Linked DNA regions of Homo sapiens. The protein of the gene in region 1 purifies or fractionates together with the protein of each later gene. This does not show direct contact. Each region holds a gene or a part of one and is shown on either strand. Other genes may lie near its edges.

Evidence for each region. The genes of interacting proteins can lie anywhere in the genome.
Region 2: the proteins of FAM83B (region 1) and RP9 fractionate together in Homo sapiens (co-fractionation; one large-scale study listed by BioGRID). This does not show direct contact.

What each region holds. Positions count from the first base shown.
Region 1 is NC_000006.12:54,849,771-54,853,270, forward strand, and holds part of FAM83B (protein FAM83B), read left to right. Parts: intron 1-3,500. UniProt on the Homo sapiens protein: Probable proto-oncogene that functions in the epidermal growth factor receptor/EGFR signaling pathway. Activates both the EGFR itself and downstream RAS/MAPK and PI3K/AKT/TOR signaling cascades.
Region 2 is NC_000007.14:33,096,851-33,099,404, forward strand, and holds part of RP9 (retinitis pigmentosa 9 protein), read right to left. Parts: coding exon 2,457-2,554; intron 513-2,456; coding exon 421-512; intron 1-420. UniProt on the Homo sapiens protein: Is thought to be a target protein for the PIM1 kinase. May play some roles in B-cell proliferation in association with PIM1.

The DNA.
Region 1 (3,500 bases):
ATGACATTTATCTTTTCAGCTGTGTCTTAAATAATTTGTAGATTACTGGTCCATGGGAAACTTAAATTAGTCATGGTCAGCCTCTCTTGCATACTGACATAGAGTCAGGTGTAGTCTCCCGGTTACTGGCAGGGGCCTATGTTGAAGAGTTTATAGAGAAGTTATGCAGTGATGATGATTATCTAATGGCTCTAACTTTGTGCTCTTTTACACTATCCCTTTGATTAAACATATTTATTGACCATTATCTGCCAAGCAATATGTTCCTCTCCAGGGGTAGGAAAGTAAAAATATATTCCTGGATCTTAGGAAGCTTCCAGTTTAGGAACCTAATGATAATTATAAGTACACAAATAAATAAATGGATCAAGTCCACTGATTTTTGTAGTTCCTTCCTATTCTCTGAAGGTCACAGCAGACGTTGTTTGTGTTCATTAATCATTTGTGAAATTGAACATTAGCAGCCCTGGGATAGTCATGTTTTTTGACAAAGTATTAACATTCTTTAGGCTTGCAGGTTTTTCACTGGTATTGTGAAAGGTTTAGACTATGTGGTCACTCCTGTGTCCCACCCACACTGCTCTGAAATTCTCTGTGATCACTTCTTATTGAGAGTATCATAAAATAATGTTAACTAAGGTTTCCCCACAGTATCACTGTGAAGCTTATTATTTCCACTTCTTTGGCCAAATTTTCATTTCAAAAGGTTTTCGTTCTTTAACATCAGATTCCTTCTTTGATTACATAAACATTACTACTTGGAGAAGAAAAGGCAGTTTTCAAAGCACTAAAGAGTGTCATCTTCCATCTCAATGGTGGTAATAGAATAACTCAACATAAGATGTTTGGGCTGTCATTTATATATACACACTGGCAATGATGGCTTTAATTCTTAACAGCATGTTACTCCAAATACCTAGTCTCATAAGACTCATTCAACAGATGTTTTAAAAGTACTATATTTTAACGGCTGGAAATAGTGGCTCACACGTGTAATCCCAGCACTTTGGGAGGCTGAGGCGGGTGGATCACAAGGTCAGGAGTTTAAGACCAGCCTGGCCAAGGTGGTGAAACGCCGTCTCTACTAAAAATACAAAAATTGGCCAGGCGTGGTGGCGGGTGCCTGTAATCCCAGCTACTTGGGAGGCTGAGGCAGAGAATTTTTTGAACCTGGGAGGCAGAGCTTGCAGTGAGCCCAGGTCGCGCCACTGCACTCCAGCCTGGGTGACAGAGTGAGACTCATCTCAAAAAAAAAAAAAAAAAAAAAAGTGCTGTATTTTTCTCAAATGTAACTTCTGACTTATTTGTTTAAAGATGAGTGCAATATAGCTAAGTTGTTTTTAGAGTAAGTAACTGTTTACAGTGTTCCCCTGTGATTCTTTTTTTTAGTTTCAACCCTTCCTTTCCATTTTCATCTTTATTGGCCTTTTCATCTTTTTTTGTCACATCTCATCCTTTGTATCCTCCTTTTGTCCCTTCTCTTCCTTCTTTTTTCTTTTATGCTTCTCTTCTCTTCCCTCCCATTATGTTTTTCTCTTCACTTACCTTCTCTTTTTATCTATCCCTTCTGAGTCCTTCTGATTTACTTTTTTTCCCGTTCATCTTTCTTCTTTCTCATCTCCCATTTCATACTTCTATTTATTTGTCCATTTCACCATCTGTTGAACTACCTATTTATTTACATTTTGTTTTGTTTTGTTTTGGTTTGGTTTGTTTTTTTGTGACACAGTCTCACTCTGTTGCCCAGGCTGGAGTGCCATGGCGTGATCTTGGCCCACCACAACCTCTGCCTCCCGGGTTCAAGTGATTCTCCTGCCTCAGCCTCCCGAGTAGCTGGGACTACAGGCAGGCGCTACCATGCCCGGCTAATTTTTGTGTTTTTTTTTTTTTTTTTTGAGACGGAGTCTCGCTCTGTCGCCCAGGCTGGAGTGCAGTGGCGAGATCTGGGCTCACTGCAAGCTCCGCCTCCCGGGTTCATGCCATTCTCCTGCCTCAGCCTCCCAAGTAGCTGGGACTACAGGCGCCCGCCACTACGCCCGGCTAATTTTTTGTATTTTTAGTAGAGACGGGGTTTCACCGTTTTAGCCGGGATGGTCTCGATCTCTTGACCTCGTGATCCTCCCGCCTCGGCCTCCCAAAGTGCTGGGATTACAGGCGTGAGCCACCGCGCCCGGCCTAATTTTTGTGTTTTTAGTAGGGACGGAGTTTCACTATGTTGGCCTGGCTGGTCTCAAACTCCTGACCTTGTGATCCACCCACCTCGGCCTCCCAAAGTGCTGGGATTACAGGTGTGAGCCACTGCGCCTGGCCTATTTACAGTTCTTTATTTCTGTCTGTCATCTTTATCAGCACAGTTCTCTACTTTGGTATTCTAAAAATCTGTACAAGTAAAATTAGAAGCATATCTCGTTTTATTGTGCTTTGCTTTATGGTACTTTGCAGCAATTGTGTTTTTACTAATTGATGGTTTCTGGCAACACTGCCTTAAGCAAGTCTGTCAGTGCCATTTTTCCAACAGCACATGCTCACTTTGTGTCTCTGTGTCACATTTTGATAATTCTCACAATATTTCAAACTTCATTATTATAATATCTTTTTTTGGTGATCATTGATCTCTGATGTTACTCTTGTAATTTTTTGGGGGTGCTACAAATCATGTGCACATATGACAGTGAACTTAATCTATAAATGTTGTGTGTGTTCTGACTGCTCCACCAACTGGCCATTCCCCTGTGCCTTTCCCACTCCTTGGGCACAGTATTGAAATTAGGCCACTTAATAACTCTACCAGGGCCTTTAAATGTTCAAGGGAATGGAAGAGTTGCATGCCCTCATTTTAAATCAAAAGCTAGAAATGATTAAGCTCAGTGAGGAAGTCATGTTGAAAGCTGAGATAGGCTAAAAGCTAAATCTCTTGTACTAGACAATTATCCAAATTGTGAAAGCAAAGGAAAAGTTGTTGAAGGAAATTAAAAGTGCTACTCCAGTAAACACACACATCATGAGAGAGTAAAATGGCATTGCTGATAGGGAGAAAATCTTATTGGTCTAGAATTCAAGGCTGTTCAATCTGTGGCCTGCAGGCCATATATAGCCCAGGACAGTTTTGAATGCTGCCCAATACAAATTTGTGAACTTTCCTAAAAGATTATTCGATTTTTGTTGCAATTTTTTTTTCTTTTTTTAAGCTCATTGGCTATTGTTGTTAGTGTATTTTATGCGTAGCCCAAGACAATCCTTTTTGGCCCAGGGAAGCCAAAAGATTAGACACCCCTGGATAGATCAAGCCAGCCACAACATTCTCTGCCAAAGCCTAATCCAGAGCAAGACCTTAACTCTCTTCAATTCTGTGAAGGCTGAGAGAGATGAGAAAGCTGGAGGAGAAAGGTATGAAACTAGCAGAGGTTGGTTCCTGAGGTTTAAGAAAAGAAGCTGTCTCCAAAATGTAAATGTGCAAAGTGAAGCAGCAAGTGCTCATGAAGAAGCTGAAGCAAGTTATC
Region 2 (2,554 bases), on another chromosome or scaffold:
AGGGAATAACTGTCATCTAAAGAAAAAATATACGGACACTTTAATCTTACAGTTTAAAGACATGTACTCTTTAAAGACCGGGAAATTAAATCCCTGATTTCAGTCATGAAACATGACTTTTTTACACAGTAAATTTTAAAAAGTGCGGTTGAATAGATAACAATGTCTGTTTCAGAAAAAAAATCACTGTTCCAAGTTACAAACAAAGATCACTTTAATAAGAATTCCTTTTTTTTGTAAAAGAGCTAATTTGTCATACAAATGTAATTTAATAAGCATGTAGTTAACAGCACACACTTTGGTCAAAGGGCTTCTGGGAATGTATTTTATGTGACCATTCAAGTTCACTGGTGACTTTCTGCTTCACTGATTTTCACTATCTCTGATAAATGTAAATTGACACTCTTGGACTTTACTTACCACTCTGAACTGCTCTAACTTTTGGTTGCCTTTGATAAAGAAAGGGCATTCTTTGTCACCCGTTCGGTGACCATAGCGTTTGCAACGCCAACCTAAAAACGAAAAGAGAAATATTTCTGTAAGATAACAGTTTCACCTACTCAAGATAAAGAATCAGCAGAATATATTCAAGTTTTTCTTCATTAAACTCTAATTCTAAAACAAAATATAATTATGGACAAGCCATGTAAGATCCCAGAAACAGAGGTAAACTAATTGCTTCCCCAAGCATCCTTTAGTCTTATACCTTTAGGAATAATATTCTATCACCAAGTATTTATGAAGCAATCCAATGGAGAATTACTTCAAAAGGTGAATTTTTTTTTTTGAGATGGAGTCCTGCTCTGTCGCTCAGGCTGGAGTGCAGTGGCGTGATCTCAGCTCACTGCAACCTCTGCCTCCTGGGTTCAAGATATTCTTCTATTTCAGCCTCCTGGGTAGCTGGGATTACAGGTGCGTACCACCACACCCAGCTAATTTTTGTATTTTTAGCAGAGATGGGGTTTTGCCATGTTGCCCAGGCTGGTCTTCAACTCCTGACCTCAGGTGATCCGCCCGCCTCAGCCTCCCAAAGTGCTGGGATTACAGGCGTGAGCCACCACGCCCGGCCCAAAAGGTACATTTTTTTTAAAGTGTGTTTCAGTATATTTTTCAGAGTAAATGTTTTCATAAAGTATCTCTGCTTCTCATTTACTATTTTAGACACTATAAAAGCTTCTTTCTCAGGTTGAGTCTGTTCAAAACTCTCACTTTTAAGTAAATAAAATCACAAGTTCTCTTAGAATATTAATGGTGGCTGGGCACAGTGGCTCCTACCTGTAATCCTAGCACTTTGGGAGGCAGAGGCGGGTAGATCGCTTGAGGCCAGGAGTTCGAGACTAGCTTAGGCAACATGGTGAAACCCTATCTCTACAAAAGTACAAAAAAATTAGCTAAGCCTGGTGGCGCATGCCTGTAGTCCCAGCTATCTCAGAGGCTGATGTGAGATCACCTGATTCTGGGAGGTTGAGGCTGCAGTAAGTTGTGATCACACCACTGCACTCCAGCCCGGGTGACAGAGTGAGACCCTGTTTTCCTGACCCTGGTAGAAGGTTGTTTAATGTGTGGAAAAGGTAAAACAGAGGGTCTCTGGCCAGGGAGACCAGGGAGACATCAGGTAGGTCTGAAGGAAGCTGCTGCAATAGCCACAAAGGGTCACACGAATGAATGAAAAGCAGATGGACACATTTCCAGACTCCCTCCACTCGGCTCCCAGAACACTCATAGTATGGCTTTCCCTCCACGTGGGAGCCTTCTCTGGGAAAATATAACCCACCCAAAGAAGAAAAACCGATAGATACTGAACTCTGAGGCACGTTGTCTTTGCTTTTAACAAATAATCAAGGCAATGAAGCATTCCCATCAAAATTCTCAAGGAAACTGATTTTTAAATTAGAATTCAATATCCTGGTAGTTAAAAATCTGTTAAAGACGATTCCAGAAAAGTAAAGGTCTTAACATTTTTATCTTCTATAAACCCATTTTGAAGGTAACAGCCATAGGATTTGTTACACCATAAGGAGAGAATATGATAATAAAGAAGACTCAAGACACAGGAAAATGGGTGATCCAACACGGGAGAGAGGCTAAGGGGACCTGCAGAAAGATGGTGTCTTAGTCAGCTCGGGCTGACATAACAAAATGCCGTATTCTGGGTGGCCTAAACAACAGAAACTGGTTTTCTCATTCATTCTGTAGGTTGGAAATCTGAGATCAGGGTCCCAGCAAGGTGGGTTTGTGGTGAGAGCTTTCTTCCTGGCTTAAGATGACAGCCCTCTTTCTTCTTCACATGGCACGGTGGTGGGGGGTGGGGTGGATGCTTCCTTATCTAGAAGATGGAGAACGTGCCTTGGCTGTAAGAGGGCTGTGATGAGAACAAGTTAAATAAAAGAAGTAAACACTCTTTGTAAATTGAGGCATGTAAGTTGCATGGATTAGGGAAACTCTCCCACACTCACACTGCATAACTTTGACTTCTTTCCCCAGTGGCATCCAAAGTCCTTTAGTTGGTGCATGAGCCAGAAATTCCCTGGCGTGTTCATTGCCTGGTACATCT